4 linked regions of the Homo sapiens genome follow. The protein of the gene in region 1 purifies or fractionates together with the protein of each later gene. This does not show direct contact. Each region holds a gene or a part of one and is shown in the gene's direction. Other genes may lie near its edges. The genes, in order: CBX1, POGZ, CHD4 and CHAMP1.

What was found.
Region 2: the proteins of CBX1 (region 1) and POGZ purify together in Homo sapiens (affinity purification with mass spectrometry; 7 studies listed by BioGRID and IntAct, with this or other methods). This does not show direct contact.
Region 3: the proteins of CBX1 (region 1) and CHD4 purify together in Homo sapiens (affinity purification with mass spectrometry; 7 studies listed by BioGRID and IntAct, with this or other methods). This does not show direct contact.
Region 4: the proteins of CBX1 (region 1) and CHAMP1 purify together in Homo sapiens (affinity purification with mass spectrometry; 6 studies listed by BioGRID and IntAct, with this or other methods). This does not show direct contact.

The regions. Positions count from the first base shown.
Region 1 is NC_000017.11:48,091,479-48,098,478, reverse strand, and holds part of CBX1 (chromobox protein homolog 1), read left to right. Parts: intron 1-7,000. UniProt on the Homo sapiens protein: Component of heterochromatin. Recognizes and binds histone H3 tails methylated at 'Lys-9', leading to epigenetic repression. Interaction with lamin B receptor (LBR) can contribute to the association of the heterochromatin with the inner nuclear membrane.
Region 2 is NC_000001.11:151,402,224-151,407,532, reverse strand, and holds the end of POGZ (pogo transposable element with ZNF domain), read left to right. Parts: intron 1-241; coding exon 242-298; intron 299-509; coding exon 510-622; intron 623-901; coding exon 902-926; intron 927-1,068; coding exon 1,069-2,731; 3' UTR 2,732-4,809; downstream 4,810-5,309. UniProt on the Homo sapiens protein: Plays a role in mitotic cell cycle progression and is involved in kinetochore assembly and mitotic sister chromatid cohesion.
Region 3 is NC_000012.12:6,597,349-6,604,386, reverse strand, and holds part of CHD4 (chromodomain-helicase-DNA-binding protein 4), read left to right. Parts: intron 1-1,889; coding exon 1,890-2,011; intron 2,012-2,211; coding exon 2,212-2,427; intron 2,428-2,620; coding exon 2,621-2,739; intron 2,740-2,856; coding exon 2,857-3,098; intron 3,099-3,333; coding exon 3,334-3,461; intron 3,462-3,717; coding exon 3,718-3,853; intron 3,854-3,991; coding exon 3,992-4,170; intron 4,171-4,374; coding exon 4,375-4,614; intron 4,615-5,961; coding exon 5,962-6,165; intron 6,166-6,287; coding exon 6,288-6,493; intron 6,494-7,038. UniProt on the Homo sapiens protein: ATP-dependent chromatin-remodeling factor that binds and distorts nucleosomal DNA. Acts as a component of the histone deacetylase NuRD complex which participates in the remodeling of chromatin.
Region 4 is NC_000013.11:114,310,031-114,317,515, forward strand, and holds the start of CHAMP1 (chromosome alignment-maintaining phosphoprotein 1), read left to right. Parts: upstream 1-4,472; 5' UTR 4,473-4,613; intron 4,614-7,485. UniProt on the Homo sapiens protein: Required for proper alignment of chromosomes at metaphase and their accurate segregation during mitosis. Involved in the maintenance of spindle microtubules attachment to the kinetochore during sister chromatid biorientation.

The DNA.
Region 1 (7,000 bases):
TGTTCATTAGTGCCTGGCACATAGTAGGCCGTTCAGATTGTTGATGAATGAATGATGAATAGGGGAGCTTTGAGATCCATTCTGAGAACTCAGCCAAATTAATGTGCATAGTAGTTTGCTTGTCCTGTGTCTGTGACATTTGGCAGAGTTAAGCTGTTGCTTTGCCATGTTTGTCTTAGCCTCAGTTAGTTTCTTTTTGTTTGTTTGTTTGTTTGTTTTTTGTTTTTTTAAGACAGAGTGTCGCTCTGTTGCCAGGCTGGAGTGCAGTGGTGGCATCATGGCTCACTGAAGCCTCAACCTCCTGGACACAAGCAGTCCTCCCACCACAGCCTCTTGAGTAGCTAGGACTACAGTCTCATGCCACCATGCATGGCTTCTTTTTTGTGGGGACAGTCTCTGTTGCCCAGAATGGTTAGCTTCAGTTTTGTACTCACTCTGGTACTAAATATAGAAAAGGTATACAGGCTGTGCAACTGGCCGTTTTAAATACCTCAGGCCTCAGATTCTGGGTTTTGTCAGCAAGCAAATAGCTTGAATATATCTGTTTTAAAAGAATCTTGAAAAATCTTCTGTGTCCTTTGTATTGACCTGAGCAATAATTTACCAGTAGCAATGTCTGTTGAAAAATTGAATAGCCTTTCCAAGGTTATTTGGAGAAGTTACTCAGATATGGACAAAATTTAGATCTTGTCAATATTTGCATAGAATAACTTGTATTAAATCTTTCCTGCCTTTAGCATTTATACTTTGATGACCAGAAGGGGGCAACCTAATTTGTCTGTGAAATTGTGCCTTTTAAAATAATAGTTGACACTTTGAGTGCGTAACAGAACTATGGTATTAATTTTTTTTTTTTTTTTTTGAGACAGAGTCTCGCTCTGTCGCCAAAGCTGGAGTGCAGTGGCGCGATCTCAGCTCACTGCAACCTCCGCCTCCCAGGTTCAAGCGATCCTCCTGCTTCAGCCTCCGGAGTAGCTGGGACTACCAGGGGGCCCCGACAACGCCCGGCTAATTTTTGTATTTTTAGTAGAGATGGGGGTCTTGCCATGTTGGCCAGGCTGGTGTTGAACTCCTGACCTCGGGTGATCTACCCTCCTCGGCCACCCAAAGTGTTGGGATTACAGGTGTGAGCCACTGCGCCCAGCCTATAGTATTAATTTTTAACTGACAAGAATGGTGTATCCTTATGGGGTACAATGTGGTGGCGTTTTTTTTTCTTTTTTTGAGACGGAGTTTCGCTCTTGTTGCCCAGGCTGGAGTGCAGTGGCGCAATCTCAGCTTACTGCAACCTCCGCCTCCTCGGTTCAAGTGATTCTCCTGCCTCAGGCCTCCTAAGTAGCTGGAATTACAGGCGCCTGCCACCACGCCTGGCTAATTTTTTGTATTTTTTTAGTAGAGATGGGGTTTCATCATGTTGGCCAGGTTGGTCTTCAACTCCTGACCTCAGGTGATCCACCCTCCTTGGCCTCCAAAGTGCAGAGATTACAGGCGTGAGCCACCACGCCCAACTTGTGGTGGGGGTTTTTGAACTTTTATTTTTCTCACATAAATAGAGGCAGGGACTCACTATGTTGCCCAGGCTAGTTTCGAACTCCTGGCCTCAAGTAATCTTCCCACCTCACCCTCCCAAAGTACTGGGATTACAGACATGAGCCACTGCACCTGGCCCACTGTGGTGGTTTTTGTTTTTCTTTTCTTTTTTTAGACAAGTCTTGCTCTGTCACCCAGGCTGGAGTGCAGTGGTGCACTCCACTCAGCTCACTGCAGCTTCCACCTCCCGGGTTCAAGTGATTCTCCTGCCTCAGCCTCCTGAGGAGCTAGGAATACAGGTGCACACCACCATGCCCAGCTAACTTTTTTTGTATTTTTAGTAGAGATGAGGTCTCACCATGTTGGCCAGGCTGGTCTTGAAATCCTGACCTCAAGTGATCCACCCACCTCAGCCTCTCAAAGTGCTGGGATTGCAGGTGTGAGCCACCATGCCTGGCCACTGTGGTGTTCTGATACGTTTCCAATGTAGTCATAATTCTGGTCTAGCTTTCTAACCACTTTTATTTTATCTTAAATTCACCTTTGAAAGATAGCTTGAGGTATCTCTGTGTCCATACTAACATTTGTAGACTCTTGTGGCCTCTCAACCCAAAAATCTGTGTCAAAATATCCATGTCAACATACTCAAGGGGTTTTCCAAGTTTCAGAACACATCTCAGATAAAATTCAAAATGTATTCGCACACCAGCATTCTAGCCTTTGATCCTCTGGAATTCAAGGGCTGGTGTTCCTTTAAAAATGAAACTCCTGACTGGGCGTGATGGCTCACGCCTATAATACCAGCACTATGGGAGGCCTAGATGGGTGGATCACCTCAGGTGGGAACTGAAGACCAGCCTGACCAACATGGAGAAACTCCGTCTCTACTAAAAATACACAATTAGCTGGGCGTGGTGGTGCATGCCTGTAATCCCAGTGACTCGGGAGGCTGAGGCAGGAGAACTGCTTGAACCTGGGAGGCGGAGGTTGCAGGGAGCCGAGATTGCACCACTGTACTCTAGCCTGGGTGAAAGAGCAAGACTCCATCTCCAAAAAAAAAAGAAACTCCTGCTAACTGTGTGTGGCATAAGTTCTTGTTTTCTGCTTAGTCAAGTTTTCCATCTGGAAAGCATTTGCTTCGCAAACAGCCACAGCTTACAGACTACAAGCAGTTTAGAAACAAGACTACCACCTGAATATACTACACATGCCTTCACCTGCCTTTTGATGATTGGTATGTAGTTGCTGATTCTTTCAACAAAAGGTACTTCTTTCTTGTTTTCTCTTTAGGGCTTATGGATCAGATTTATCTTGCTGCTTATTCCCTTAAAAGCTTATAGCTTTGGAATTCTATTCCCTGATGCTTCTGAGACAGTCATCCTCTTTTTTTTGAGATGGAGTTTTGTTCTTGTTGCCCAGGCTGGAGTGCAATGGTGCAATCTCAGCTCACCGCAACCTCAGCCTCCCAGGTAGCTGGGATTACAGGCGTGTACCACCATGCCCAGCTAATTTTGCATTTTTAGTAGAGATGGGGTTTCTCCATGTTGGTCAGGCTGGTCTCGAACTCCCAACCTCAGGAGATCTGCCTGCCTCAGCCTCCCAAAGTGCTGGGATTACAGGCGTGAGCCACCGCGCCCCACCTGAGACATCCATCTTTATTGTCCATATAGGGTTCAACAACTTGTTCAGGTTCCAGACCTACCTTTAATTGTATGTGCAAGTAAAAATAGAAACAGAATGCTTTGGGAACCCCAAAGAAAAGAGAAATATTATTTAGCTAGGTTGGGTAGGCTTCATGGAGAAAGTAGCATTTTTAAGCTGGGTCTTGAAGAATGGATAGGATTTTGACTGTTGGCCCTGTACAGGAGCACACTACTTTCTTTTTTCTTTCTTTTTTTTTTTGAGGCAGAGTCTTGCTCTGTCACTGAGGCTGGAGTGCAGTGTCAAGATCTTGGCTCACTGCAACCTCTGCCTGCCTGGTTCAAGTAATTCTTGTGCCCCACCCTCCCAAGTGGCTGGGATTACAGGCATGCACCACCACACCTGGCTAATTTTTGTATTCTTAGTAGATATGGGGTGTCACCATGTTGGCCAGGCTGGTCTTGAACTCCAGGCGTCAAGTGATCCACCCGCCTCGACTTCCCAAAGTACTGATTTATAGGTGTGAGCCACCAAGCCCAGTCAGGAGCACACTTTTTTTTTTTTTTTTTCCTTTGAGACAGAGTCTTGGTCCGTCACCCAGGCTGGAGTGCAGTGGCGCGATCTCAGCTCACTGCATCCTAACCCCGTTTTCCGGATTCAAGCAATTATCGTGCCTCAGCTTCTTGAGTAGCTGGGACTACAGGTGCGCCATGCTGGCTAATTTTTTTTTTGTATTTTTAGTAGACACGGGGTTTCACCATGTTGCTGGGCTGGTCTCAAACTCCTAGCCTGAAGGATCCACCCACCTCGGCCTCCCAAAGTGCTGAGATTACAGGTGTGGGCCACAGAGCCCAGCCCACACTTTTTTTTTTTGGAGACAGAGTCTTGTCCTGTATCCCAGGCTGGAGTGCAGTGGCACAATCTTGGTTCACTGCAGCCTTCACCTCCCAAGTTCAAGGAATTCTCCTGCTTTAGCCTCCTGACTATCTGGGATTACAGGTATGTGCCACCACACCTGGATGATTTTTGTATTTTTACTAGAGTTGGGGTTTCACCATCTTAGCCAGGCTGATCTTGAACTCCTGACCTCAAGTGATCCACCTGCCTTGGCCTCCCAATGTGCTGGGATTACAAGCATGAGCCACTGCGCCCTACCAAGCCCACACTTCTTTTTTTTTTTTTTTTTTTTTTTTGAGACAGAGTTTCACTCTTGATGCCCAGGCTGGAGTGCAGTGGCACGATCTTGGCGCATCGCAACTTCCGCCTCCCAGGTTGAAGCGATTCTCCTTCCTGAGCCTCTGGAGTAGCTGGGATTACAGGCATGCGCCACCACACCCAGCTCATTTTGTATTTTTAGTAGAGATGGGGTCATGTTGGTCAGGCTGGTCTCGAACTCCTGACCTCAGGTAATTCGCCTGCCTCAGCCTCCCATAGTGCTGGGATTACAGGCGTGAGTCACCATGCCGGGCCTAAGCCCACACTTCTTAATACTTAATAGATGAGCAAAGCTATGGAGGAAACATAGGATATGTTCAGGTTGTGGCCAGGTTATAGTCTTTGACAGGAATGTAGATTTTGTGAGGGAAGAAGGGACATAATTAGTCTGGAATAAGAACCGAAGAATATAAGTGTTACACTGACGACTTTGGCCTTTTGTTTTAAATGGGAGGAAACCTTGTAGAAAATATTTCCTATTCAGTCAGCTCCAGCCCAAACTGGTTTATATGTGTCACATTGCCTTTGTTTACAACAGTTCCTGAAGCCAAATTGCCCTACCAGTACACCTTTTCAAATGCTAGTAAAGCCTGGTTTCAAACTCAGCTTTTCAAAATGTTTACTGATGCCCTCGCCAGTTCTTCCTCCAACCTCCTATAGTGCGTTTATGGCTACTTTTTATTGCTTATACTGCTTTTGGTAATTATGTATGCTTGCCATTTCGGACTCTCACTTGAACTTGCATTGTTTACCTTTTTGTAAATTTTTTTCGAGACCTGTCTTCTGTGTCTTTTTTTTTTTTTTTTAATTTTATTTTTGAGACAGAGTCTCGCTCTATTGCCCAGGCTGGAATGCAGTGTCGTGATCTGGCCTCACTGCAACCTCTGCCTCCTGGGTTCAAGCAGTTCTCCCTGCTTTAGCCTCCCAAGTAGTTGGGTAGCTGGGATTACAGGCGCCTGCCATCATGCCCAACTAATTTGTTTCTTTCTTTTCTTTTCTTTTCTTTTTTTTTTTTTTTTTTTGAGACAGAGTTTTGCTCTTGCTGCCCAGGCTGGAGTGCAATGGTGTGATCTCGGCTCACTGCAACCTCTGCCTCCTGGGTTCAAGCGATTCTCCTGCCTCAGCCTCCCGAGTAGCTGGGATTACAGGCATGCGCCACCACGTCCGGCTCATTTTGTATTTTTAGTAGAGACTGGGTTTCTCCATGTTGGTCAGGCTAGTCTTAAACTCCTGACCTCAGGTGATCTGCCGACCTCGGCCTCCCAAAGTGCTGGGATTACAGGCCTGAGCCACCATGCCCGGCCTAATTAATTAATTAATCTTTTAGAGATAGAGTCTCGCAGCTGGGTGCGGTGGCTCACGCCTGCAATCTCAGCACTTTGGGAGTCTGAGGTAAGTGGATCACGAGGTCAGGAGTTCGAGACCAGCCTAGCAAAGATGGTGAAACCTTGTCTCTACTAAAAATAGAAAAATTAGCCAGGTGCAGCGGCGGGCACCTGTAATCCCAGTTACTCAGGAGGCTGAGGCAGGAGAATCCCTTGAACCCGGGAGGTGGAGGTTGTGAGCCAAGATAGCTGCACTCTAGCCTGGGCAACAGAGCAAGACTCCCTCTCAAAAAAAAAAAGAGAGAGAGAGAGAGATGGAGTCTTGCTGTGTTGCCCAGGCTGGTCTGAAACTCATGGCCTTAACCACTCCACAACCCTTGCCTTGGCCTCCTAAACTGCTGGGATTACAGGTGTGAGCCACAGTGCCTCGCTAATTTTATTTTTTTTTTAATAGATAGTATTAAAAGGTAGAAGATCTGGTCGGGCATGGTGGCTCAGTCCTGTAATCCCAGCACTTTGGGAGGGCGAGGCGGGCAGATTACCCGAGGTCAGGAGTTCGAGACCAGCCTGACCAACATGGAGAAACCCCATCTCTACTAAAAATACAAAAGTAGCTGGGCATGGTGGCGCATGCCTGTAATCCCAGCCACTCGGGAGGTTGAGGCAGGAGAATCACTTGAACCTGGGAGGCGAAGGTTGTGGTGAGTCAAGATGGCACCATTGTATTCCAGCCTGGGTGACAAGAGTGAAACTGCATCTCAAAAAAAAAAAAAAAAAAAAAAAAGATCTGGCTGGGCATGGTGGCTCACGCCTGTAACCTGAGTACTTTGAGTGGTCGAGGTGAGTGGATCACCTGAGGTCAGGAGTTCGAGACCAGCCTGGCCAACATGGTGAAACCCCCTCTCTACTAAAAATACAAAAATTAGGCCTGGTGTGGTGGCTCACGCCTGTAATGCCAGCACTTTGGGAGGCTGAGGCTGGTGGATCACCTGAGGTCAGGAGTTTGAGACCAGCCTGGCCAACATGGTAAAACCCCGTCTCTACTAAAAATTCAAAAAATTAGCTGGGCATGGTGGCGCGTGCTTGTAATTCCAGCTATTTGGTGGGGCTGAGACAGGAGAAGCACTTGAACCCTGGAGGCAGAAGTTGCGGTGAGCCAAGATCATGCCCCCGCATTCTAGCCTGGGCAAGAGTGAGACTCTGTCTCAAAAAAAAAAAAAAAAAAAAAAAAAGGGCATGGTGGCGGGCACCTGTAATCCCAGCTACTTGGGAGGCTGAGGCAGGAGAAT
Region 2 (5,309 bases), on another chromosome or scaffold:
GAAATGCTGACTCTCAGCCCCGCCCTAGGCCTACTGAACCAGAATGTGAATTTTAATAGATCCTCAGTGACTTGTATGCATATTAAAGTTTAAGAAGCATGGTGACAGGAAAACTGGCTTAGGTTGAGATTAGGGTGCACTGAAGAAGTGTCTCTTTTGTTGGGGGCATTGTCACTGGCTGGTGATCTCTAGCTTAGCCAGCAGAACTCCGTAACTCATACCACTTCTTTGTCTTTCTCAGCAATCATGTTCCACGGAAGAGCCCCAAGTATTTGGCTTTGTTTAAAAATTCTGTGAGGTAAGAAAAAACTTATTGGCAGCATCTTAATTTTTCAGGTTTTTACATTAATTTTCAGGTTTTTCATTATTTGGAGAGGTGGTTATGTGAATTAATTTCAGAAAAAGGAGAAAGTGGGAGGGCATTCCTTTTCTTTCTTAAGCCTCAAAGCTTAATGGTCTCAAGTGTCACTGCTGTGTTTGTCTTACATAGTCTCAATTCTCTTTTTTAGTGGAATCAAGCTGGCCTGCACTTCATGTACCTTTGTTACCTCTGTGGGCGATGCTATGGCCAAGCATTTGGTATTCAACCCCTCTCACAGATCCAGCAGCATCCTGCCACGGGGTAAGTAGGAGAGAAGGGGATTAGTTGAGCAAGGGGAGGAAAAAAGATACAGGTTCGTACTGTATGCATCAGGAGCATACCTACTTGGCCTCACTCATTCACTGTTGAGATGTGCTGGACCTAATTAGAAACCTTCCGACCTGAAGTTTATATAAAACTGGGAAAGCTGGTCACTGCGAACAGCGTATTTGTATGTAGTAAGTTGAATCCCAGGGCACTGTCTTTGGAGGGCTTATTTTTTCACTGAGCTAACTATTTTTGTTGTTTCATTTTCCATAGGACTCACTTGGATAGCTCACTCAAGGTAACAAAAACTCACCTCACAATTTAATTTCTGGTTTGCAGTGTGTTTACTCTGTTATTATTATTATTATTATCATATTATTGTTTCAATTTCCTAGTTGAACTGAGATTTCTCCTCTTCTCTTTGCTCCTCACCCCTTTAGGCATGGCCAGACTCGTGACCGAGTGCATGACCGGAACGTGAAGAATATGTACCCTCCTCCTTCCTTCCCCACTAACAAAGCTGCCACTGTGAAATCTGCGGGGGCCACCCCAGCTGAGCCTGAAGAGCTACTAACTCCCTTAGCCCCAGCACTCCCATCACCAGCCTCAACTGCAACCCCACCACCAACCCCCACTCACCCGCAGGCTTTAGCCCTTCCACCGCTGGCTACAGAGGGAGCCGAATGTCTGAATGTTGATGATCAGGATGAAGGGAGCCCAGTCACCCAAGAACCTGAGCTAGCATCAGGTGGTGGTGGTAGTGGTGGAGTTGGCAAAAAGGAGCAGCTGTCTGTGAAGAAGCTTCGAGTAGTACTGTTTGCTCTATGCTGCAATACAGAACAGGCAGCTGAACACTTCCGAAATCCCCAGCGACGTATTCGCCGTTGGCTTCGACGTTTCCAGGCCTCCCAGGGGGAGAATCTAGAGGGCAAATATCTGAGCTTTGAGGCAGAAGAGAAACTGGCTGAGTGGGTGCTAACCCAGCGCGAACAACAGCTACCTGTAAATGAGGAGACCTTGTTCCAGAAGGCCACCAAAATAGGACGTTCTTTGGAAGGGGGGTTTAAGATCTCCTATGAGTGGGCTGTGCGTTTCATGCTGCGGCACCACCTGACTCCCCATGCCCGGCGAGCTGTGGCCCACACCCTACCTAAGGATGTAGCAGAGAATGCAGGACTCTTCATTGATTTTGTACAACGGCAGATTCACAACCAGGACTTACCCTTGTCTATGATTGTGGCTATTGATGAGATCTCTTTGTTCCTGGATACAGAGGTGCTGAGCAGTGATGATCGAAAGGAGAATGCCCTGCAGACAGTGGGCACAGGGGAACCTTGGTGTGATGTAGTCCTAGCCATTCTGGCAGATGGCACTGTCCTTCCCACCCTGGTTTTCTACAGAGGGCAGATGGATCAGCCTGCTAACATGCCAGACTCCATATTGCTAGAGGCAAAGGAGAGTGGCTACAGTGATGACGAGATCATGGAGCTGTGGTCAACTCGAGTGTGGCAGAAGCACACAGCTTGCCAGCGCAGCAAAGGCATGCTTGTGATGGACTGTCATCGCACTCACTTGTCAGAAGAGGTACTGGCTATGCTTAGTGCCTCTAGCACTTTGCCTGCAGTGGTCCCAGCAGGCTGTAGCTCCAAAATTCAGCCATTAGATGTATGCATCAAAAGAACTGTCAAGAACTTCCTGCATAAAAAATGGAAGGAACAGGCTCGGGAAATGGCAGATACTGCATGTGATTCTGATGTCCTGCTTCAGCTGGTGCTTGTCTGGCTGGGTGAAGTGCTAGGTGTCATTGGGGACTGTCCAGAGCTAGTTCAGCGCTCCTTCCTGGTGGCTAGTGTTCTGCCTGGCCCCGATGGCAACATTAACTCACCTACAAGAAATGCTGACATGCAGGAGGAGCTAATTGCCTCCCTAGAGGAGCAACTGAAGCTGAGTGGGGAACATTCTGAGTCTTCCACTCCACGACCCAGATCATCTCCTGAAGAGACAATTGAGCCTGAAAGTCTTCACCAGCTCTTTGAGGGTGAAAGTGAGACCGAGTCTTTCTATGGCTTTGAAGAAGCTGACCTAGATCTGATGGAGATTTGAGTGTTGGGGTCATGAGGGGGTGTGGAGTGAGGGTGGGAACATGTGAGGGAGGGTAAAGGGGCTTAGGGAAAAGGGGGCATACCAGGTGGGGTATTTGGTTTCTATTTTTTAATTTTATACCACCACTCCCCCCTGAAGTTGACTTACACTTCCCTGTGGATTTGTGGATTAATTAGGAAAACCAATAGTAATCACGTCTGAGCCAAGGAGCTGGCCCATTGGTCATTCACTTCTGCTAAAAACAGGTTTTTGTGACTTTTTTTTTTTTTAAATTTAAATCACTGTGTTTGGTATTTTTCTGACAAAATTAAGAAAAAGAAAAAAAATTATTTGTGGGCAAATGTTAAATTTTTTTGTTTCCCCTTTTACCTCAATTGTATCATAGTACTGGGTTTTTTTGTTTGTTTTATTGTGTGGCCAATGTCTTTGGGCATGATGCTATCTAATCATTGTTAATGTGAGAACATTTCTGAAGATGGGAAAGACAAATTATGTAGCTCACAAACTGGTTTATTATATATATGGATAAAAAACTTTTTTCATTGTGGTCTTAACACTTTTATATAAAAATGAAAATGGAAAAAAAGTCCCACTGAACTCTCTCTTCCTTCTCCTTTTCTTTCCTTCCCTCTCCAGAGATGTTGGTTTCTACAGCAACCCTAGATATAAAATTGTGGCTTTAAAAATGCATGAAACCACCTTTAATTATCCAGAATGAATAGATTTGTCTTTTCCTCACCACCTTCCCTCCAAAACATGACATAAACAATATTTTTTGCACTTGTGATCCTTGGCCCCTTTCCCCATTCTCAACACCATCCATCCCTCTGGACAAAGGATCATACAGGTGTTATTAGCAAGCAAGAGATACTGAAGCGATCAAACAGTTTTAGGGTGGAAGCCATTCCCAGTTTGAGTCTTCATCCTGTAAGCCCCCAGGGGCAGTCCCTGCTTTACTGAACTTCATCCTGTTAGATGGAGAGCATGCCTGTTTAAGGGATTACTGGTCCTACAGCCAGGAGCTAATTGTTCAAGAAGTGTTGAACTTTAAAAAGACAAGACCACTTGTTGAAATCCAGCGTGCTCTGTGGCTTTCCCCTATTTCTCTTAATACTTAGGGAAGAATCTGACAGGAAGAAGCGCACAGGGGTGTGCACAAAGAAAATGACATGAATCTTTATTTTTCACTGCCAGCTTCAAGGAAAGAAAATTTTTTCTACAATTTGCATGAGGGATTTTTTTAATTGTATGTACTCATGGTTGTAAACCAAAACGTACTGTACCGTACAGAGAAAAGGAGCAAAAAACCAAGTCTTCTGTTTATCCTGAGGCTTTCCACAATGTTCCCCTCCTGTGAGCCAAGGAGGCAAACTGCACAAGCTTGTAAATGGTTCGTCTTTAAAATGTACATAAGTGGAACATTTAATAAAATGAGGGGAAATGGATTTATAAACTTGTTTTTTTTCTAGGTGACCCTGTTTAATAGGCTTTCACAGACTGGGGAATGCTCAAGATGTGATGGGCCTGGTGGTACAGGTGTGACATTTGTTACCACCCATTTCTCCCACCCCACCCTGCTTTTTTGTTTGTTTGTTTTTTCATCCCCCAGCACACTATAATATAGTGAACTGGAAAAGTCCCTTCCAGAAACAGCTTGGCCAGCTTTGTGAACCTTTGACATCTGAAAACAACCAAGGATCCATCTGGGCTTCTCTTCCCCAGCTTTTTGCCTGATGCCATTTTATTGACAGACAATGGACTTTGAAGTCAGCCTTTGCCTTTGAGAAAGTTCAAGAACTATGGTTGGTCACGTCTATCTACAACCTAATCCTACTCTTTGGTAGTCTCTGCAGCAGCCACAGCCTTAGCAGAGCTGGGGTTCCTGTCTTCTGCACACGATTGACTTTCTTGATGGGTAATTTTTTTTAAGATTATACCAACAGTGGATCAGCTGGGTTTTGGCCAGGAAGTTGTCTTTGTGGACTCTGCCTGCATGGCTTAGTAGTAGAAGGAAATTTTTTTTTGGTTTTGTTTTTTATAATTCAGTTTAATCAATAAACATGTATTTATTGACTGTTTCCTGTGTTGAGACTGAATGTGTGGAGGTTTCAGATTGAAAGCTCATTGTTTGGCTTTACAAGTTTGTTGTTAACGGACAATGCAAATGGAGGGATGGTTTTATTTTTTCCTTCAGTTCTCACTGAATTTCTGTACTTTGAATTTGCTGCCTATATTTTCTTTCTCAAGAAGTTTGGAGAGGATTTGTGTCAGAATCGCCTACAGTGTTCATTTTAAAAATTCAAGCTGGGCATGATGGCTCATGCCAGTAATCCCAGCACTTGGGAGGCTGAGGCAGGAGGTTGCTTGAGCTCAGAAATTCAAGGCTGTAGTAGGCTATGATCATGCCACTGCACGCCAGCCTGGGCAACAGAATGAGACTTTTGTCTCTAAAATATTCAGGTTTAGAACCATTCCAGGGATGGCTGATGCCCCAGCTGACTTGAGGGCAACCTGATGCAGAATAGTTCTACTAGATTATTTTTAAAGTGGTATTTTAATGAAAATCACAGCCAACATT
Region 3 (7,038 bases), on another chromosome or scaffold:
CTGTCTAGCTCAGGAAGTGGGGAGCCAGAGACATTTTAGGGCTAATTTTGGGGGTTAAGAGCTAAGAACATGTCAGGGATTGAAGGAGGGATATTATTTTCTTTTTTATTTTTGAGATGGGGTCTCACTCTGTCGCCAAGGTTGGAGTGCAGTGTGCGATCTTGGCTCACTGCAACCTCCGCCTCCCGGGCTCAAGCGATTCTCCTGCCTCAGCCTCCTGAGTAGCTGGGATTACAGGCACCCACCACCATGCCTGGCTAATTTTTGTTTTTTTAGTAGAGACAGGGTTTCACCATGTTGGCCAAGCTGGTTTCGAACTGACCTCAAATGATCTGCCCGCCTCAGCCTCCCAGAGTGCTGCGATTACAGGCATGAGCCATTGCACCCGATTGGGATATTCTCTTCTACCACTGTCTAGGTCCTGCTCTGTTTTTTTGTGCAGACATTCCCATATGTTGGATAGGAATCTGGGTGGGAGTGGTGAGGAAGCTGAGCTTCAGAGACTTCTTGTGGGCCTCCATTCCTCAAACTAAATCTTTTGGGTATCAGAAATTTGGGGAGAAGGTTGTATGCGCTGACCACAAGTCCACTGAGCCTTTGTTAAATCTCAGCTCTGATGATTGAAAAAATAATTATGATTGAGGGAGTGATCGAGTTCTTCTCTTAGTATTACCTTCATGTTTGTCTCGCTTTCCTTGGGTTTCCTTGCTTAGGATGTTAGGGTGGGCTCTTGTGAACTGTTGTCATCCCAGAGTAGGTGGCATTTGGACCTGGGGCCAGGTAATTTGGGGAGGCTTCTATGAGGGCAGTCTCCCCCCCCGCCACCCCACCTCTCTCAAACCCACCCCCTCCCCTGCCACTTCCTGTCTGTCCTATGTTGGCAGCTGGGTGCCCTGGGCTGGCTTCTGCGGTCAGGAGCCATTTTCCCTCTCCTCAGTGGGTGAGGCACTCCCTTCTTCTCTCCACTCCTTTCTCTACCCACCCCCCTTTGGGCGGGGGTGGCTTGGGAAGAGGGAGAGAGGAGGGAGGAGGGAGTCGGAGCCAGTGTGAATGTCTGTTACAAAGGAAGCTGCCTCCTGGTCTTCTCTGTGTCCCTTCCCACCTATCCTTGCCCAGGAGCTTTCAGTCTTACCCAGGCTTTGTGTGTGCCTCCAGCCAGGGGAGGAGGTGGAGCCAGATGGGAGGAGGCTTGCTGGGGGGCGGGTGTAGGGGAGATGGTGACAGCTGGGCTGATTCGGGCCCCTAGGGAGAAGAGGCTGCTGACCCAGGAGAAGCTGAGGAGGAACATTAGGGTTGGAGATGGGGAAAGGAAATTGTATTTTAGAAGTGGGCATGAGATTGAGCTGGCACCTGAACCTAGGACTTGGAGGTTCTGGTTAATTTGAGCAGTGATGACTTCAAAGTGGTTAGAGAAGGGTGTGGTTTCCGAGACCCCTGAACTGATCCTGTTCTGGGAAGGTATATTCTATAGTTTTTGCCTTCTGAGTAGGATCTTTCATTCTCATTCCCTGGTTTATAGAATAACTTGGTGGCCAGTTACAGGAGGCCTAAATCTAGTTCTCTTACTTGGTGAACTCTGAGCAGCTCAGTTCAGCTGTACTGGTGAACATCTAGAGGACTGGTAGGAACGGGAGAGAGGAGGCAGGGGTCTGGACAGCTGCCCGAGGTGGGCCTGGTCTGGCCTGGCAGGCCTATTTCGGGTATATACAGCTCTCTCTTTGTCTGTTTTTGTCCTGGGTATCAGCTTCCTCCTGTACAGAGTATAGCAGTTCTCTTCAGAGGAATCTGGGACAAGAGGTGGGGAATAAAGTCTAAAGCCTCTGGATTAGGGCCTAACCTTTTGCTATTGATCTTTTCCCTGCCTACCACTCTTTGCCAAATATATGTAGAAAATGAAGAGGACCCAGAAGAGGATTTGTCAGAAACAGAGACTCCAAAGCTCAAGAAGAAGAAAAAGCCTAAGAAACCTCGGGACCCTAAAATCCCTAAGAGCAAGCGCCAAAAAAAGGAGGTGAGTGGGTGACTGAATGTTACGGGGAATCAGAGGAAGAAGGGAGGAGCTCTGAGAAGGGTTGAAGGGCTGAGGGCATTTGTTTCTTTCTCAGAAGTGGTGGGCCATGTTCTGGGGATGAGCCTCAGGGCTGTCCTGAGGTCAGCATGTGTGTAGCATGTGTGTGTCTGTCTCCCTCTTCCCCCCTTGCCCTGCTCCAGCGTATGCTCTTATGCCGGCAGCTGGGGGACAGCTCTGGGGAGGGGCCAGAGTTTGTGGAGGAGGAGGAAGAGGTGGCTCTGCGCTCAGACAGTGAGGGCAGCGACTATACTCCTGGCAAGAAGAAGAAGAAGAAGCTTGGACCTAAGAAAGAGAAGAAGAGCAAATCCAAGCGGAAGGAGGAGGAGGAGGAGGAGGATGATGATGATGATTCAAAGGTGCCTGGACCTCCATCCTCTTCTTTGTACTGTTAAACTTTTGTCTTTTTGTTTCCTAGACACCTTACTGCCCTTTAGAACACTTTCTCTTCTTTTCCTCTTAACTCTGTTACTCTGATTTTTCCACACAAATTTGCTTAGCAAGTGTGGGCACTAGGTGGCAGGTACTTACTTGACTTTGCTCTTTCTGCAGGAGCCTAAATCATCTGCTCAGCTCCTGGAAGACTGGGGCATGGAAGACATTGACCACGTGTTCTCAGAGGAGGATTATCGAACCCTCACCAACTACAAGGCCTTCAGCCAGTTTGTCAGGTAAAACAGAAGGGGTTTGGGGAAGGGGGAGGAGAATCTTTCTGTTCTCTCTTCTTACTTCTCTTTCTTTTTTTATTCTTAAACCTTTCCCTCTGCTCTTGTGCATTTCTCCACCAGACCCCTCATTGCTGCCAAAAATCCCAAGATTGCTGTCTCCAAGATGATGATGGTTTTGGGTGCAAAATGGCGGGAGTTCAGTACCAATAACCCCTTCAAAGGCAGTTCTGGGGCATCAGTGGCAGCTGCGGCAGCAGCAGCGGTAGCTGTGGTGGAGAGCATGGTGACAGCCACTGAGGTTGCACCACCACCTCCCCCTGTGGAGGTGCCTATCCGCAAGGCCAAGACCAAGGAGGGCAAAGGTGAAATGGGGTTCAAATGGGAGTGGGGGTGTCTAGTGTGGGCTTAAGATGTCAAAGACAGCATGGGAATGCTGGTCTGTCAGCCCTAAGGTAGGAGATAGGAGGGAGGAATGAGTCTTGGATTTTGGAGGGAAATTTGGGAATCTGAATGTGGGGAAGCAAGCTTAGGTGGAGAAGATTTTATTTTCCCCATCTTTGGTCTTGTGGTATATATTTGGATATATCCTGATTTTAGGTCCCAATGCTCGGAGGAAGCCCAAGGGCAGCCCTCGTGTACCTGATGCCAAGAAGCCTAAACCCAAGAAAGTAGCTCCCCTGAAAATCAAGCTGGGAGGTTTTGGTTCCAAGCGTAAGAGATCCTCGGTGAGAGCCCAGCCCATCGCTTTAGGGAGGGTGCCATGTCTAATAGAAAGGATGTGACCTTCTATCAGAACCTGTCCTTCATAGTAGGCACGTAAGAATGTGGGGCGTTTCCCACAGAACAAGATGAGACTAGGCTCCCTGTATAACGGTGCTTGCTGGGATTCTGGTGTCCCCAGTGAGAGAGTACTCCCCTCTCTGCCACTCTGTCCTTCCCCTTGGCTTGAACGTCTAACCTTATTCTTTTTCATCCTGCCAGAGTGAGGATGATGACTTAGATGTGGAATCTGACTTCGATGATGCCAGTATCAATAGCTATTCTGTTTCTGATGGTTCCACCAGCCGTAGTAGCCGCAGCCGCAAGAAACTCCGAACCACTAAAAAGAAAAAGAAAGGTGTGTTTCTCTTCTGTATATTTGTGATGGGATGAGGTGGGAGTGATTGGGGAAGAATCTCCCTAAGGAGATAGGGGTCGGGGGGTGGGGGGAGGTAGTTTTTTTCCAATAACTGGGCTTTCCCTCTTCCTTGCCCAGGCGAGGAGGAGGTGACTGCTGTGGATGGTTATGAGACAGACCACCAGGACTATTGCGAGGTGTGCCAGCAAGGCGGTGAGATCATCCTGTGTGATACCTGTCCCCGTGCTTACCACATGGTCTGCCTGGATCCCGACATGGAGAAGGCTCCCGAGGGCAAGTGGAGCTGCCCACACTGCGTGAGTGTCTGGCCATTGTGGCCCCTTGGAACCCATGAGAAGAAGGGTGGGACAGTAAAGCTCTTCGGGGCCTGGATGGAAATGGAAATGCTGGTGCTGCGGGTTGTGAGCTTTGGGAAGCATTCAAAGGAATGATGGGCACTGGCTTCAGACTGCGGTGGGCGGGTGGGGGTAATAATCTGAATCTGTGGTCCTTTACTGCAGGAGAAGGAAGGCATCCAGTGGGAAGCTAAAGAGGACAATTCGGAGGGTGAGGAGATCCTGGAAGAGGTTGGGGGAGACCTCGAAGAGGAGGATGACCACCATATGGAATTCTGTCGGGTCTGCAAGGATGGTGGGGAACTGCTCTGCTGTGATACCTGTCCTTCTTCCTACCACATCCACTGCCTGAATCCCCCACTTCCAGAGATCCCCAACGGTGAATGGCTCTGTCCCCGTTGTACGGTGAGTGACTGATCTCAGCCGGGGCAAAAAATGGGAAAGTGTAGTCTTTTCTATGTAGGCTATTGTGAGGCTGGGGTGCAGGAGAGGAACTATGAGCTTTTCAGCCCTGAGAAAGGTATTCTCCTTCATCCTATAGTGTTGGGATACTTTTGTCCTGGGAAAATATAGGACTAACTTCAAACTGAGGAGTTGATGTTTTGCCAGCTCTCTTAAGAGGAGATGAAGCAATGTTCTTCTAGCTGAGAACATTTGTCCCTGTGTTGACACCCTGCCTCAGGGTCTTGGTAGCTTACAATGTTTTCAATTTTTTTGTTAAAAAAATTTTTTTTTTTGGAGACAGGGTCTCATTCTGTCATCCGGGCTAGAGTGCAGTGGTGCAGTCATAGCTCATTGCAGCCTCCAACTCTTGGGCTCAAGTGATCCTCCTATCTCAACCTCTTGCTGAGTAGCTAGGAGTACTGGTGCATGCCACCACATCCAGCTAATTAAAAAAAAAAAATCTCTGTTGAGACAGGGTCTCACTATGTTGCCCAGGCTGGTCTTGAATTCCTGGTCTGAAACCATTCTGCTCCCTTGTCCTCATTAAGTGCTGGCATTACAGGTGTTTACCACCATGCCAGCCAGTTTAGAATGTTTAATAGGGCCACTTACTGCTTTAGATTGCTTAAGGGAGGAATTCTGTGCTCTAAGTCTGTTGATTTCCTGATTGTTCTGGCTTATTGTTAAAGTCTAACTACTGGCTCTGTTAAGCAGATAGGAGTGATGGTGGCACGCAAATCCTGGACGATGTCCAGAAATGGAGAGGGAATTCTATTACAGGTTGAGCACCCTAATCCAAAAATGTGAAATCCAAAATACTTCTGGTCCCAAGCATTTCACATGAGGGGTCCTCAACCTGTATTTTCTCCCTGGAGGAGTCCTGGGATTAGATTTTATTTGAAATGAGATCTTTTTTTATTTTTTTGAGATGGAGTCTTGCTCTGTCCCCCAGGCTGGAGTGCAGTGGGGCAATCTTGGCTCACTGCAAGCTCTGCCTCCCAGGTTCAAGTGATTCTCCTGCCTCAGACTCCCAAGTAGCTGGGACTACAGGCGCATGCCACCACGCCCAGCTAATTTTTGTATTTTTAGTAGAGACGGGGTTTCACCATGTTAGCTAGGATGGTCTCGATCTCTTGACCTCGTGATCTGCCCGCCTCGGCCTCCCAAGGTGCTGGGATTTCAGGCATGAGCCACTGCTCCAGGTCTGAAATGAGATCTGAATCGTCCTTTGATGAAGTTGAGACTGTGGGCTGTCCCTTCTCCTCCCATGGTTATGATTTGAGATTAAGTTGTCTCTTTTTCTCTCAGTGTCCAGCTCTGAAGGGCAAAGTGCAGAAGATCCTAATCTGGAAGTGGGGTCAGCCACCATCTCCCACACCAGTGCCTCGGCCTCCAGATGCTGATCCCAACACGCCCTCCCCAAAGCCCTTGGAGGGGCGGCCAGAGCGGCAGTTCTTTGTGAAATGGCAAGGCATGTCTTACTGGCACTGCTCCTGGGTTTCTGAACTGCAGGTAAGTTTAGGATAGTCTGGAGATGTAGGGGCTACGATGAAGAGGATAGTGACAAAAGAGCCTTGTGGATAGAAGGAATGAACACAGCTTCTTGGTGGCTGATTTTCTCTTTCCGCTCAAAGCTGGAGCTGCACTGTCAGGTGATGTTCCGAAACTATCAGCGGAAGAATGATATGGATGAGCCACCTTCTGGGGACTTTGGTGGTGATGAAGAGAAAAGCCGAAAGCGAAAGAACAAGGACCCTAAATTTGCAGAGATGGAGGAACGCTTCTATCGCTATGGGATAAAACCCGAGTGGATGATGATCCACCGAATCCTCAACCACAGGTACCAGCTGAGCACACGGGAGACGGGCAGTCTCCGTGGGAGAGTCCTGCTAAAGAGATTGGGAAAATGGCTGTCACCAGTAACTTAGACTTGGAAGACACTGGTTTTTTTTGTTTGTTTTTTGTTTTTGAGACAGAGTCTCACTCTGTGCCCAGGCTGGAGTGCAGTGGCGTGATCTCGGCTCACTGCAACCTCTGCCTCCCAGATTCAAGTGATTATCCTGCCTCAGCCTCCTGAGAAGCTGGGACTACAGGCGCAAGCCACCATGCCCAGCTAATTTTTTGTATTTTTAGTAGAGACAGGGTTTTCATTCTGCTGGCCAGGCTGGTCTTGAACTCCTGACCTCAGGTGATCTGCCTGCCTTGGCCTCCCTAAGTGCTAGGATTAACAGGCGTGAGCCACCACGCTCAGCCTTATATATTTATTTTGAGACAAATTTTAGCTGTGTTGCCCAGGCTTGAGTGCAGTGTCGTGATCACTGCTCATAGCTGTCCCAAACTCCTGGGCTCAAGCAATCTGTCTGCTTCAGCTTCCCAAAGTGTTAG
Region 4 (7,485 bases), on another chromosome or scaffold:
TTTTCTTCAACCAGCAGAGCAGGTGACCATAGTTCTTGGGCAGCCTGCTTGAAACAAAGTGCCCTCTGCTGCTCTTTTCATGAAGAGTGTAGCAGGATTGATTGAGGCTGGCTTTGCACTTACACGGTAAACTGGCCATATGAGAACTTAGCTGCTCTGCCGGCCAGCACCAGGCTCCCAGTTGCCTTTCACTCGCTCACTGGCGCTCAACTAGCATTGATTGAGTGCCTGCAATGCAGCAGTCAGTGCCCATCTGCCACCCCTGGCAGCTGTGTGGACCTAGACTGCCCTTCAGCAAAGTCTGCTGCTCTGCCTGAGAGGAAAGGAAGAGCCCCATGCCCACCAGCAAAGGCTTCTGGGGCCTGGGCATCCTCTCCTCCCTCCAAAACTGGGGCTAGTGAATGGTTAAAAAAAAAAATTAAGAAAATATTAATGGACTTGATTCTAATTTTTATATTTGATTTTTATTTTTCAGTCCTATTTAAAAAAATGTCTAAAACTCGGAAATAAGGCAAAAAAGAGTGATTGCATGGCTGTGTCATGTCTGACAAGCTCCGATTATTTAACAGTTGACCCACATTTGTGCCCACACTGTGACATCACATGTTTCCTTACGGATTTTTGCCCAGTAGAGATGTGAGTGATTTCTATAACATGGCCTCAAAGGTGGCAGTTGTGCTTCCCTGTAGGATCCTAACCACTTTTGTTTCTAACTGGCCATTTGACTCCACTTTTTCTAGTGGCTGCACGTACTCAGCTTTATGAACCTTCTGAACTAGCTTCATCCTCCTCTGGATTCCCTCATGAATGAGTTAAATAAATCCTCTGAGATTGAGACCGTCCTGGCCAACATGGTGAAACCCTATCTCTACCAAAAATACAAAAATTAGCTGGGCGTGGTGGCAAGTGCCTGTAGTCCCAGCTACTCATGAGGCTGAGGCAGGAGAATCACTTGAACCCGGGAGGTGGAGGTTGCAGTGAGTAGAGATCGCACCACTGCACTCCAGCCTGCCGACAGAGCAAGACTCCGTCTCAAAAAAAAATACAAAATAAAATAAATCCTCTGATATGTGTTCACTTTATATTCGTGTGAGTCATGTGTTTAACTTTTGAGAACTATACTTTGACATTCCCCAAAGCCCAGCAACAGAGCTAGATACTCAGGAGGAATTCCATTTTATCATACTTCCCATTAAGTAACTTATTTTAGTTCCCATTATTTTGCATTATTATAAATTAAGTAGAAATAGCAGAATAATTTGTCCTTTTTTATTATAAAGTAGCTAAGTTGATTATATTAGATCTAAATTATAAGCTGGACTGCTTTTATTATTTCTCTTACAGGAAGCACTTAATAATTTATTTCTAATTTTTATTATGTTCCTTGTAATACATATTAATGCAGCAATTTGAATGGAAAAATTAAGTCTGACTTTCTGACAGAAAGCCAGTCTGATTTTGGCTGCTTCATTTGACAACATGATTCTGTGTAGGTTTTGAATATGTGCAGATACTCAGCACTGTTATTCTTTATACACAGAAGACAAATGACAAAGTCCAGTGCCATCTCAGCTAATGAGTTTGCAGCTCCTCAAAGGCTGTCAGGCTGCCACTTTCTACTGCAATTGTAGTTCACCTGCCTCTACCCATTCCCTGATTCAAGTCTGGTCCCTGGAACATAGTATAGGTTGAGAAAACATCAAAATAAACTGTTGAGAAGTATATGTTCAATAGATCCTTAAGTGAAATTTTGAAAGTCCATAAGGGTCTGGTTTTAGTACAGGATTTTATGAGAGTTATTTCTGCTTTCTTTGGTTACTTTAAAGTTTAGTGCAATATACTGGGAACCTTTCAAAAGGCCAAATTGGGAGTTTATTTGCATTATTCATCTTGAACTATTTAATATTCTATAACTACAATAGCTTTTTTAACATGATTTCAATTCAGAATAATAGCAGAGGGTGTTTTGGTTTTTGTTATTTCGTCACCAAGAGTTGCCTTCTGCTAGAGTTTTGTTCAGTGTTCAATTGGAATAGGTCTCTTGGGATCATCAACTCATTCTGACACTTCAGGAAAAAACAACTGAAGCAGCCATTCAAATTAGGTCCTGCAGCCACAACGAACCTGTTTCATATTAAGAGTCAGGATCTCAAAAAGTTCTCAATCAGTAAATCTTTGCTATTCAGAGAAAATAAAAGATCCTCTCATTTCTGCATTTAACATTTACAGTTTACAAACTGTTTTCATTGGCTCTTTTAAAAGCTTGTAACTAGGTGGATACTTTTTAAAGAAATCTATTAAATTTAATGAATCAATTTTGCTGCAAAAACAAAACTTAGAAAAATCCTAAAATATTTAATATTGATATTTGAATCCTAGAAATCAGAATCATTCCGGAAATTAACACAGGATCCTAAATTTTGCATGAAAGGGAGGTAGAGCCAGGCGCTGTGGCTCACGCCTGTAATCCCAGCACTTTGGGAGGCTGAGACGGGCGGATCACGAGGTCAGGAGATCGAGACCATCCTGGCTAACACGGTGAAACCCCGTCTCTACTAAAAAAATACAAAAAAATTAGCCGGGCGTGGTGGCGGGAGCCTGTAGTCCCAGCTACTCGGGAGACTGAGGCAGGAGAATGGCATGAACCCGGGAGGCGGAGCTTGCAGTAAGCCGAGATGGCGCCACTGCACTCTAGCCTGGGCGACAGAGCGAGACTCTGTCTCAAAAAAAAAAAAAAAAAAAAAAGAAAAGAAAAGAAAAGAAAAAAATGTAAACACAATATAGCAACTTTTGTGATACAGCAAAAGCAATGCTAAAGGGGGAGTTTATAGCTATAAATACATCAAAAACCAAGAAAATCTCAAATTAACAACCTAACTTTACAACTTAATGAACTATAAAAAGAAAAACTAAATCCAAAGCTGGCAAAAAGAAGGAAATAATAAAGATTAAAGCCAAGATAAATGAAATAGAAAATAGAAAACGATAGAGAAAATCAATGAAACCAAAAATTGGTTCTTTGAAAATGTCAAAGCATTATTCACAATATCTTGAATAGGGAAGCAAGCCAAGTGTCCATCAACAGGTGAGTGGATAAGCAAAATGTGGCATATCCATACAATGGGATAGTATTCAGTGTTAAAAAGGAAGGAAATTCCACAATGTGCTACAACATGGATGAACCTTGAGGATGTTCTGCTAAGTAAAATAAGTCAGTCACAAGACAAATACTGTATGATTCCACTCTTATGAGTAGTCAGACTCAGAGACACAGGAAGTAAGATGGTGACTGCCAGAAAGTAGAAGGTAGAGGGGAACCGAGAGTTAACATGTAATGCATAGTTTGTTTTTCAAGATGAAAGAGGTACAGAGATGGATGGTGGTGTTATGAATATACTTACCACCACTGAGCTGTACACGTAAAGATAGTTAAGACGGTAAATTCTATGGATTTTATTTTTATTTTTTTGAGACAGAGTCTCACTCTCTCCCCCAGGCTGGAGTGCAGTGGCGCGATCTCGCTGTAACCTCCGCCTCCCCGGTTCTATGGGATTCTCCTGCCTCAGCCTCCCTAGTAGCTGGGGTTACACGCGCCCGCCACCACGCCTGGCTAATATTGTATTTTTAGCAGAGACAAGGTTTCACCAGGTTGGACAGGCTGGTCTCGAACTCCTGACCTCAGATGATTCACCTGCCTAGGCCTCTCAAAGTGCTGGGATTACAAGCGTGAGCCACCGCGCCCGGCCATTCTATAGTTCATTTTCACCACAAAAACAAAAATGAAATTCACAACAAGCAAAACTTCAGAAGGGTACAAAGGTAGAGAGCAGTGTGAGCTAATTTTACAGTCTTTCAAAGCATACAGACTGATGGCATCAGCATTAGAGGTGCATGCATTTTAATTAGAATTGTGGTGGTAACATTCATAAAACTGAAAACAAAAAACGAAGAAGATAACTTCTGGGAATCGGGACTTTCAGTGGAGGCGGGGTGATGAGAAAAGGAATATTTACTGTCATCCAACAACTTTGTCTTGTACTTTTGTCATAGGTATTATGCCAGTAATATCCCTGAGAATGTATGGGGCAGGTCTAGCTCTTTTTTTCCTAATAAATTCATTCACACAACAATCAAAACAGCAAGAAAAGGAAGAGATATCCGCACGGCGGCGGCAGGCCGGGGCCGTTCCAAGGGCCTGGCCGGAGGCCACAGGCCAGACGCGGCGGAACCCTCCCGGAGCCGCGCCCGGGCGCGCGCGGGAAGCGGAGGCGGAGTGGGCACGTGCGGCACTTCCGGGGCGGGGCGGGCACGCAGCCCTTCCGAAGGCCCGCGCGAGCCGCTAGTTTTGCCCACGCACTTTTGGCACAGCCGCGCCACGCGATCGGCGATCTGATTGGCCCGCGCGGGAGGGCGCGCGGCGCCAAACTTGCTTCCCGTCAGCCCCCGCCCGTCCCGCGGGAGCGCGCACGCTCGCGCACCCGGATCCCGGCTCCTGCATCCAGTCGCCATTCGGGAGGCCGCTGCGCTGCAGGGCCTCGCGGAGCCGCCCGCGACCGCGAGCCGGGCCCTCCGCGCGGTCCATCGCCCACTGGACGCCGCCCGCGGCCGGACCGGTGAGGAGCGAGAGCGAGCGGGGGAGGGGCGTGGTTGGGGCCTGCATCCCCGAGCCCCGTGTCGGCCGCCGACCTGGCGGGGACGGTCCCGGGAAGCCGCGGGTCCGAGTGAAGGGGGCCTGCGCTGCCTCGCTTCCCACACGGCCCGAGGGAAGGGCCCGCCCCCACAGGCCGGGGCGGGAGTGCGTCTTTGTGCAGGGAGCGGGGAGGCCCGGTGTCAGTCGCTGCCGAGGCTGGAAACATTGCGTTTGAAACCATTGGGAAGTTGAGGGCGGCACAAGACGAAAGCCATTCTTTCTGTTTTAGTTCTAGACTGCCTCCTCTTCTGTCATTATTACTGTTTAAAAATCCGCTATACAGCCTCCAAAGTGGGAGAGGACATTTGTAAACCTGATAAAGAGTTAATGTCTAGAATACAAGAAGAGATGCAACTGACCAACAAAAAGCAACCCAGTTCAAGAATGGGCAAGGAATTTGAATAGATATTTCTCCAGAGAAGAGAGACAAATGGCCAATAAGCACGTGCAGTGATGCTCAACATCACTAACCATTAAGGAAATGCAGATGAAAACCACAATGAGATACCACCTCACACCTGTTAGGGTGGCTATTAAAAAAAAGGGAAATTATGAGTGTTGGGGATGTGGAGAAATTGAAGCTCGGGTGCATTGCTGGTGGGAAAGTAGGGTGGTGCAGCAGCTATGGAAATTGGTAGTCGTTCCTCAGTTCTAGGTTTATACCCCCAAAAATTGACAGCAGAGACTCAGATACTTGTTCACAAATGTTCATCGCAGCATTATTCAAAATCCAGATGTCTATCAACATGTGGATGAAAGGCAAGCTGTGGTATATACATATAATGAATGGACCATTGTTCATCTTTAGAAAGGAATGAAATTCTGATACATGCTGCAATATAAACGAACACATTATACAGTATAAACGAGCACATTGAACACATTATGTTGAGTGAAATAAGACACAAAAAAGACATACTGTATGATTCCCCCTCAGGCACAGAATTGAGATTACCAGCACTGAAAGTGGAGAGTGGAAGTTACTGTTTCATGGGTACAGAATTTCTGTTTGTGGTGAAGAAGTTCTGGAAGTGGATAGTGGTGATGTTTGCACAACGTTTTAGTACTAAACTAACTAAATTGTGCTTTTAAAAATGATTAAATGGCAAGTTTTGTTTTTTTTTTTTTTTTTGAGACGGGAGTTTCGCTCTCGTTGCCCAGGCTGGAGTGCAATGGCCCGACCTTGGCTCACTGCAACCTCCGCCCCCTGGGTTCAAGGGATTCTTTTGCCTCATTCTCCCAAGTAGCTGGCATTACAGGCGCTTGCCACCACACCTGGCTAATTTTGTATTTTTAGTAGAGATAGGGTTTCTCCATGTTGGTCAGGCTGGTTTCGAACTCCTGACCTCAGGTGATCCACCCGCCTCGGCCTTCCAAAGTGCTGAAATTACAGGCATGAACCACCATGTCCGGCCTAAATGGCAAGTTTTTTGTTTTTATTTTTGTTTTTGTTTTTTAATGAGCCAGAGTTTCACTTTTGTTGCCTGGGCTGGAGTGCAGTTATGCGATCTTGGCCCACTGCAGCCTCCGTCTCTCGGATTTAAGCGATTCTCCTGCCTCAGCCTCCCAAGTAGCTGGGATTACAGGCGCCTGCCACCACACCCGGCTAATTTTGTATTTTTAGTAGAGACGAGGTTTCTCCACGTTGGTTAGGCTGCTCTCTGACTTTCAACCTTAGGTGATCCGCCCACCTTGGCCTCCCAAAGTGCTGGGATTACAGGCGTGAGCCTGTGGTGGCGCGCGCCTGTAGTCCCAGCTACTGGGGAGGCTGAGGCAGGAGAATCGCTTGAACCTGGGAGGTGGAGATTGCAGTGAGCCGAGATTGCGCCATTACACTCCAGCCTGGGTGACAGAGCGAGACTCCCTCTCAAAAAAAAATAAATAAATAAAAATGACTCCTTGTGTAAACTATAGACTACTTAATAAATCAGTATTAGCTTATCATTGTAGCAGATATCTCACACTAATGCAAGATGTTAATACAGGTGAAGTATCCTTCATTCGAAATGCTTGGAACCAGAAGTGCTTTGGATTTTTTTTTTTTTTTTTGGATTTTGGAATAGTTGCATTGTACTTACTGGTTAAACATCCGTAATCTGAAATCTAAAATGCTCCTTTTGGCACTCAAAAAGTTTTGGATGTTGGAGCATAATCAGATTTCAGATTTTCAGATTAGGGATGCTCAGCCTGTAGTAGGAAAAACTGGGGACAAGAAGATAGGTGGGAATTCTTGTACATTCCCTTCAGTTTTTCTTCAAACATAAAACTACTTGGAAAATTAGTTTATTAATTTCTTTCTTTTTTGGGTTGGGGGTGAGTATGGAGTCTTACTCTGTTGCCCAGCTGGAGTGCAGTGGCTCAGTCTTGGGTCACTGCAACCTCCGTCTCCCGGGTTCAAGCGATTCTCCTGCCTCAGCCTCCCAGGTAGCTGGGATTATAGGTATGCACCACCACGCCCAGCTAATTTTTGTATTTTTAGTAGAGACAGGGTTTCACCATGTTGGCTGTTGGCCAGGCTGGTCACGAACTCCTGTCCTCAAATGATCCGCCTGCCTTGGCCTCCCAAAGTGTTGGGATTACAGGTGTGAGCCACTGCGCCCGCCCAGTTTATTAATTTCTTAAAGGCCAGGCATGGTAGCTCACACCTGTAATCCCAGCACTTTGAGAGGCCAAGGCAACAAGATCTCTGGAGGCCAGGAGTTCAGGACCAGCCTGGACAACATAGTGAGACCTCATCGCTACAGAAAAAAAAAATTAGCCAGATGTGGTGGCAGGTACCTATGGTCCCAGCTACT